Linked DNA regions of Homo sapiens: region 1 is linked to region 2. Evidence: fine-mapped expression QTL. A gene starts in region 2. The other region holds a variant in brackets. All regions are shown on one strand. Distances are between the middles of the regions.

The links. PIP is the estimated chance that this variant, and not a neighbour inherited with it, causes the effect. A credible set is the group of variants that fine-mapping cannot tell apart.
Region 1: its variant is the best candidate, but not a certain one, in a credible set for the expression of ITPKB-IT1 in whole blood (TOPMed, PIP 0.70).

Annotation. Positions count from the first base shown.
Region 1 is chr1:226,646,271-226,650,660 of GRCh38, forward strand. It overlaps ITPKB (inositol-trisphosphate 3-kinase B), which reads right to left. Exons shown (of 8, transcript NM_002221.4): 3 at 2,402-2,501; 4 at 897-1,110. Among named protein-coding and RNA genes, the nearest start is that of ITPKB-IT1, 27 kb to the right of the region's middle. RefSeq lists silencers at 189-389, 3,578-3,872 and enhancers at 510-1,401, 3,668-3,757. The variant C/A (reference allele first, on the strand shown) is at 2,219.
Region 2 is chr1:226,672,421-226,676,810 of GRCh38, forward strand. It overlaps ITPKB-IT1 (ITPKB intronic transcript 1), which reads right to left and starts at 2,648. Exons shown (of 2, transcript NR_103784.1): 1 at 2,497-2,648. The region is part of intron 2 of ITPKB (inositol-trisphosphate 3-kinase B); the gene reads right to left. RefSeq lists a silencer at 3,630-3,779.

The DNA of each region.
Region 1 (4,390 bases), 26 kb before region 2:
GGCCGACAGCCTTAGGGAGGTTCACCAAGCCTGCACAGGGGAGAAGGAGCCGTGCTGTGGATGACTCAGGGTGGAAGGGCAGCAGTTTGAGAGGTAATGAGAAAACCCGGCTGCCTAAAACTGAGCCCCGAGATCACAGCAGCCGGCCTCAGGCATCCCTGTCTGCTCTCTGCCCTGCCTCCTCAAGCCCCCTCTTCCTCTCTCCTCTTCCCTGGAGTCCTCTCCAGGCTTATCCCCTGGGCAGGTGTCAGGGTGAGCCTGAGCCCCTGTCAGGAACCTGGGGGTGGGAGCCAGTCCTGCACACAGGCCCAGTGACTGCTCCGGGCTCACCTGGGGCCCTGCGGTGACCTGCCATGTGGGTTTCTTGAGTTCCGTCAGGGGCTTCCTCCTCCTTTTAGGCAGATACAGGTCTTTTTTGGGAAACCAGCATGTTCTACTAGCCACTCTCTCTTCCCACTCACCAGGGCTGGGGAAATGGAAAGACCTCGATTCCCATCTCCCCTGCAGCTCACACAGCAGGAAGTCACCATCCTGCGACCTCCCTACCTGGTGGCTCCCCGCACCCCCAGCGATCCCACCTGAACCAAGGGCAGCTCTCTCTTCCTTCTCTCTAGGGGGCCTCAGAACCCAGCCGGTGCCCTTTTTCTGGTTCCGCCAGCCCCTGGCTTCTGCTCACTGGAGAAGGAAAGGGGCCATCATGGGCAAAGCCCAGGTCCCGGAACCCTCTGCAAATAATGGGAGATGCCTGGGGATGGGGAGGCTCTAATTGGTCCAACAGCCTCCTCAGCCTGCCCTTGCACCTGTGAGGCCTCCGGGAAGCCCTGAGTGCCACGCTGTGCACCTGCCATGTGGCTTGCACTGAGGCAGGCATGTGGGCTGCGAGAAGCCTGGCTCACCTGATTCCCATCTTGCAGTCCATCACACAGGGCGAGTCGAAGTCGGCCAGCAGGTCGTCCATCTGGTTGTAGCGCTCCCCGTCCTTCACCACATCCCCATGGTAGGCAGGTACGAAGGGCCTCAGCACATCCACCATCAGCCGGTCCAGGCAGCGCTGCTCTGACTCACAGTGCTTCTTCAGGATCCTGCCATTGGCAGCTGCCTTGAAACTCCCTGGAGAGCAAGTGTAGAAGGTTCCTGGTCTCCGGCTGCAGGTAGCTGGCAGAGGCACCCTCCCCAGCACAGGGTCTGGGCCTCCCTGGGGATGGCTAAGCCTGGGGCTGAAGGTGTGTCTATGTCCCTGCTATGGACTGAGCACCTTAAGGGGAGTGGGTTCAAGACCTAGTCCCCACTCACTAACTGTAATTCTGAGCTGGTTCCCCAGCTTCCTTGACTCCAGACTCCTCCTCACCAGTGTTCCCTGCTGGAAGGGTACAGAGCTAGGTGAGAGACTGAGGTGCCACGACCCAGTCATTCCTTAGTGTTGCTATTTTCATCCTCACCTCCATCATCAGCCCTGCTTCTCGGCAACGAAGGTGTCTCCTGGCCTCAGTAGAGAAACCCTGATTGGACAGGATTCAGAGCCAAGGTGGGGAGATACAGCAGGCTGAGAAGCTGGGGGGCCTAAGGCTCAGCCCACCTGGGTGGCACTTCTTCTGAGCCAGACCAAGTAAGTATTCACACAGGCTGTCCATCCATGTGCCTTGAGTTGGGCCAGTGTGGCCAACGAGGTAAGCGAAATGCGGGACCTTGTGCTGGCCTGAGGAGGCTGGTGAAGTCACGAAGGCCAAGTCCACAGGCAGCCCCTGACATGTCTCCAGATGACAGTGCTTCCAGAGGGTCCTACATGTGGGCTAGATGGCTCTGGGGCCTCGGCTCCAGATGTCCCTTCTCCCCGGCACTGCCTGGACTCAGCTCCTAGCCACCTTCCTCCCAACACCGCACACCGCCCTGCAGTTATGGGGTGGCTTGGCCGCATCTTCCACCAGCTGCAGGCTCCCTCAGGGCAGAAACTACATCTCCATTAATGCCGCAACCCCCAGGACCATGGCAATTTAGGCACACAGTAGGTGCTCAATGAAGGGGTTAGCTTTGCCTCTTTGTCCAGGGTGACAAATGGCAGGTAAGCTATAAAGACTGATGGCTTCATCTGTCTTATTGAATACAACGGGAAGAGAGACAGAAAGAAAGAGACTGGAAGAGACAGAGATAAGAGCCAGAGACCGAGGGAGGGGAGGATGCATGTTTTGGAGGATGGGGTAACACAGACTCCAGAGAGGTC[C/A]GTTGTCTATGGCATTTACAAGGCATTGGTAAGGCCGCAGCCTGCAAGTGTGGCTGTGATTTCAGACTAGAAAGTCTTGGAGGGAACTTGCTCTGGAGCTTTGATCCCCAGAATGCAGCGTCCAGGGCACCTCCCCAGAGGGCTGAGCACCATGCTGGGAAAGTCTGGGAGAGCTGTGTCTACCTGCGTGTCCTGCCAGCTGGATCCAGGGGTACTTCTTCTTGAAGGACATGACGAAGGGAGACCAGTGCACCATGTTTTTTATCTTCCTCCATGATTTGCTCTAGAAACAAACAAACAAAAAGCTCTACATTAGAAAGACAACCACTAATTTCTGGTTAGGACAAATTCAAAGCAAAGGCCCTCATTGCCTGTGGCCACAAGATGGGAAGGGCCCTTGACGGGCTCTGAGGACCTTGCCACCACCATCACCTATGCGGCACATGGTGGGAGGTGGCTTTACCCCATTTAACAAACAGCCTGAGCAAAATGCTCAGGGGAACTCCCCTGTCCCAAGAGCAACGACCCCTCCAAGGAAGGCTGGAGAGGACACAACCACCCAGCCGCACCACATTAGTTCATATTCAATTCGTAGATGCGGAGGCACCAGAGGCACCTCTTGCCTGCGAGTGGTTTGAAGAGAGACTTTAAAGAAATTCCTCAGAACAGAACCTGCACCGATGGCTTCAGGTCACACAGGAGGGAGCAAGCCCACAGCTCTCTCCTCTGCACCGCGCTCCGCCCTCTCAGGATGTTTCTTCAGTGAAAACAGCCAGGACTGGGAGTGTGCATGTGTGTGTGCGTGTGTGTGCATGTGTGTGTGCATATGTGTGCATGAGTGTGTGCGTATGTGTGCATATGTGATATATGTGCATGTGTGCATGTGATTGTGTGCATGTGTGCATGAGTGTGTGTGCATGTGTGATATGTGCATGAGTGTGTGCGTATGTGTGCGTGTGTGTGCATGTGTGATATGTGCATGTATGTGCATATGTGTGCATCAGTGTGTGCATGCGTGATATGTGCATGTGTGTGATGTGTGCATGTGTGTGCATGCGTGTGTGATATGCACATATGTGTGCATGAGTGTGTGCGTGTGCATGTGTGTGCGTGCATGTGTGTTTGGGGAGAGCAGGCCCTTTGGGCAGAAAGGAGAACTAAGGTATATTGAGCATCTTATTTTATTTTCTCAATGAGCATGCAAGTCAATTCTTTTCTATTTCCATCTGGTGGAGCCTGAGCCTCAGAGAGGTAAATGACGAAGCTGGGATTTAAACATTCATTTATACAACTACTTGAAAATAAATAAAATTAATAAAATTCTTTTCTTCCCCAGCAAAAACAAACAAAACAAAACAAAAAAACAAAAAAAAAACATATTTTTAGAAAAAATATCCTTAAGTGAACTTTAATAAGAACAGGCTGCAGAGATGAAGATCAAGTGTCCCCAAAATACACCCGTCCTCAGGGGGGCGATGAGAACCTGAATGAGAAGCATTGTGAGTTCCTGAGAAAGTGGATCCTGGACCAGCTAAACCACGGAGAGCAGAAGCCATGTGGCTTGCAGAGGAGATGAGGGTGGTACTGCCTGACAGGGGGACACACTGAAGATGTGGTTCCCACTCCTTGCCCCGAAGCGCCCAGCTGCAGCCCTCAGGGGTCAGCGGCGGCTGCTGGGTCCCCAAGGTGAAGTCAAGGTGAAATCGGCCTCCTTTGTTTTTTCTCTCTTTGCTGAGACTCAGCCGCTTCTGTCATCAGGTTTTCAAGTTAAAATCTATTTAAGGAGAGGAATTCTTCCTTACTAAACCTGGTAATTCTTATCCCCATCCCAGAAACTCTCACCCCACCGCCAAGACCAATTCTATTCTTAAGAGAGGGCAGCGCCCCATGAGGCCATGTGACAAAAGGGCCGAGGCTTTACTGACAAGGATGTTTTTCCTAGATCCTTCTGATGGAGATCGCCAAAGAAGGCTAGAGCCAGCGGAGGCATTTCTTATCTAAGCACCCAGAAGGCTGCATAAACAATCAGGGCACACAATGCATGAGGGCAACAATGGAAAAACCTCATTACACAAGATGAGCCCAGCAGTGGCTCGTGGGGACGCCCCTGCTCAGGGGGAAGCCATTACGGTGGGTCCAGGGGGAGAGTGCACAGCCGGTCACCACCCGTGG
Region 2 (4,390 bases):
CTGTCAAACAACTTTGTATCAGCCCACTTCCTTGTTCCTTTTGCCTTTGAAAACCTGCTTGTAACAAAGGCCAAACAGAGCACTCCCCAAGGCAACTTGGAAGTGTGTCCTGGGCAGCTGTCCTCCACCTTGGCTCAGATATTAGGTCGACAAGACCACGGCTGTCTTTCGGTGTGAGGCATATGGCTTCTTCTCACTCCCACTCTAACCTGGAGCTGCAATCCCTGCTGAAAGAATTGCCCTCTAAAGGCCTAAGGATCTCAGCAACAGGGAAGTGGGAGGAATCTTCATGCCAGAGATAAAGAGCTGGTCCATGGGCATGTGTGGGAAGCACTGGGGTAGGGCGAAGAAATCTATCTCCTGGGAGGTGTTATCACTACATAAATCCCAGATTTGATCAGGCAATGTAGCCATCTCACTATTTCAGGCTGCAGCTGCTAAGACAGGTGTGAAGTGGGCAGACAAACAGGAAGAAGGTCCCAGGTGGAGAACCTGCATTTGGCTTCTGTACCCCAATTCCAGTAATTAACAAAGCAAAAACCTGCCACACTGTGAATGATGGCCCTTCCCAACCAGAATCCTGTTTCTGACAAGTGGTGAAGACACTCTAAAATGCACCGAGTGTATGACAAGGACAATCTTCTGGATATTCCCATTTAAACAGGGATGGGCCGGATGCAGTAGCTCATGCCTGTAATCCCAACACTTTGGGAGGCTGAGGCAGGAGGACTGCTTGAGGCCAGGAGTTCAAGACCAGCCTGGGCAACATGGTGAGACCCCTTGTCTCTATAAAAAACACAAAAATTAGCCAGGTGTGGTGGCGCGCACCTGTGGTCCCAGCTACTCGGGAGGCTGAGGCAGGAGGATTGCTTGAACACAGGGGTAGAGGCTGCCATGTTCGTGCCACTGCACTCCAGCCTGGGTGACAGAGCATGACCCTGTCTCAAAAAACAATAAATAAAATAAAACAGGGATGAACTGGAGAAACTGTGAAGGTATAGGTGCTGTCTTGCTTAGGGGTGGGGATGATTTACGGAAGGCTAACACAAGGGCCTTGGTTAGTCTAAAGATAATCACGGCAACTAGGTGGTGGTACCAGGAACTAGTCCACCAAATCCCAACCTGCAGCCAAAAAGTCTCAACTCTCACCTATAAAGGGATCCTTCTAAATTCTCTAGATGTATGGAAATCTTTGACAGGTCTTCTGAAGCCTAGAGTCATCGTATAAACATAGATAAATAGTGTAGATATTGCATAGCTATAGATTGATATGTACATATACCATATACATTAGATATATGCTATATATTTACACTTCTTGGCCTTTCGGCTTTATTATCTATCTCCACAAAGTAGGACAAGACAAGCTTGTTTCCCATTTAAGTTTTTCTATCTGTACTGTTTTGCAAATCCACCAGAGAGTTGCAGGACACTCCTGCTACAGAAAGATTTCTGCCAGGCAGGCTCAGAGACCTGCTCTGTTACTGTTCTATTTAATAACACAAACACACAAATGGGGGCCTTTCTTCCCCATGACTTTCATGGCATGGCTGGGGGCAGAGCTGGGAGGTTTTCACGGCCCATATATCCTCAAACTGCTCCATTTCCCCCCGATCTCAGTTGCCACCCCACTAACTCCGGGGTGATCAGCTCCATACCACAATCATCTCCTGGTGATAGAGTTCCATGGATTTTAAAAGCTGTAAGAAAAACTGAGACAGATTCAGAAGAGATTCTAGTAACCCCAAACCAGCAATTACAAATATTTTTTAAGTATTTATATATACACATTTTTTTTTGAGACAGAGTCTCACTGTTGCCCAGGCTGGAGGGCAGTGGCACCATCTCGGCTCACTGCAACCTCCAACTCCCAGGTTCAAACCAATCTCCTGCCTCAGCCTCCGAGTAGCTGGGATTACAGGCACCTGCCACCACACTTGGCTGATTTTTGTAGTTTTAGTAGAGATGGGGTTTCACCATCTTGGCCAGGCTAGTTTTGAACTCCTGACCTCGTGATCCACCCACCTCAGCCTCCCATAGTGCTGGAATTACAGGCGTGAGCCACTGTGCCTGGCCTAATTTTTGTATTTTTAGTTAGAGACGGGGTTTCACTATGTTGGCCAGGCTGGTCTCGAACTTCTGACCTCAGGTGATCTGCCCGCCTTGGCCTCCCAAAGTGCTGGGATTAAAGGAGTGAGCCACCACACCCAGCCACAAGTTTTAGATACTTAAAATACTTTTAAGTATCTAAAATTAGCACCTCTCTTTAAACCTTTTACTCACCCTTTCCTGACCCTTTCCTTGTATCCCCCATTCCCTTTCGATTTCTTCACCATCCCTATTTGCCTCCTTTTCCTCACTATCTACCCACCAAGTCCTGCTCTGCTCCCATCCCACTTAAGATTTTCGTGTCTATTCTGTATCACCCTTAATGATCCACTGAGGCTGTGAGCTTCCTGTTTACCCACAAGCGTTCAGCGGATCCAGCCATCCTACCAAGGGTTAAAGATGCTGTAGTCCTACTGTGCTGCCTCCGACCCAGTTCCTTCCAAAACAAAGCAGGATGACAAGGTGACTCCACGAGAACTGCGTTTGACCTCTGTGTGGGTTTTCTGTTTCCAAGGCCACAGCAGGGTACTCTGAAAACTCTAAACCAGAAGGAAAGGAGACCTAGCCTTCAGAACTCTGTGTGTATGTGCTTACAGGCAAAAAAAAAAAAAAAAAAAAAAAAAGGAACCAATGAGGTTGTCAGAAGGGGATACTCTGCTGTAACTGGTGTTTACCACGACCCACCGGGTGCTGAGGAGGAAGTGGTTGCTATAACCCCAAGGGGGAAACGCTCGCTTGAAACAGGAAAATAGAACTCTTACAACTTTCCATTAGCAGCGTTCAAGAAGCCGGCCACACTGGGAAACACTTGCACAAGCACTCCCCAGAGTCCTGAGACGAGTGTCAAGACAGTCCAATCACGAAGCACAGATCAGGACACAGATACAGGTCCATGTTTTTTCCAGAACGTCTCAGCACTGGAAAAACTCTCATGATCACTTCCCTTACCTCCAGCAGGCTGAACTTGCAAGGAGCTGTGGGGAGGAGGAAGGAAGGGGAAAATGGCAGGATGACATATTGGAAAGAACGCTGGGCCCAGTGAGGGTCAGAAGACCTGGGCTTTAGTCCCAGTTCTGCGATTTACTAGTGGTGGAACTTTGGGCAAATTACCCAACCTTCCTGCTTCTCGATTTCTACTTCCTCTATAAAACAGGGATATTGTTTACTGCTCTGCTCACATCCTTGGGCTGCTGTGAGAATCCTATGGAATCCTTCATAGGATGAAACTCGTATGTGCTACGCAAATGCTTGTTATCAATGTAAGATTCGAGTCTGCATAAAGCCTTCTTGAGTCCCAGCCTCTTGCTCCTCAAACGCATCCTCTCGGCTACACTTCCACCTGTGCACTTCCTCAACCCACCTTACTTGTAATTCTGCCCACACTTCTGTAGAATTTCTGTAGAAGATCCCATAGTCTGGTCAGAGGAGTATAAGCAAGTCTAAATAACCAAAGTGGGGGGATCTCAACCAAATCATTTGACTCTGGGCTCTGTGCTCCCACATTCTCTCCTCTCCAGAGGTGAAGACTTCATCCTCAATGGCTAATTTGCCTGCTTGGAGGCTCAGATTGGCCCGTGTTCTGAGTCATATTTTCCATTTAGTAAAATGAACATCTGGCTGCTGTATGATGCCTTTTGTGTACCATCACCTAAGCCACAATTACCTGCAAGGTAATTCATACCACTACAGCACGGTGCAAAAACAGGGTTGGTTTGGGATGGTGAAAGTCAGCCATCTTAGTGTCAATCTTGCATGCAAATTCTAATGAAGAAAAGCCACTACCAGCAGGTCCACACACACTCACAAAGAACTCATAAATTATTTTAATCCAAGCGTTCAAAGGGATCCTGGGTCCCAGGAACCATCCTGCTGTTTCATCTCAGTGAGAGGCAAGATGGTTAAGGAAAAACAGCTCTAGTTTCCTCCATCCCCCCAATTCCCCTACCGGTGTGACCTTGACTAGGCCACCCAACCTTCTAAAAACCTTGGCTTCCTCATCTGCAAAATAGGGATAATAACAAGACATGCCCTTCCCGGCTCCCAGGGTTATTATGGCAACCAAGTGAGAAAACAGATGTGAAAGTGCTTTGCAAACCACAAAACACCGTCCAAGTGTGAGGTATTGTTATCTAGCAAAAGTGCCTTGAGAATAACACAGAAATCTGGAAGTATTTTAATTCGTTAATGGACTTATACCACACCTTGACTTAAAAAGGACGTAGGGTAACTGCCTGGAGGAATTCTGAAATAATTTCTAAATAAGTTTATCCAAGCAAGTTGC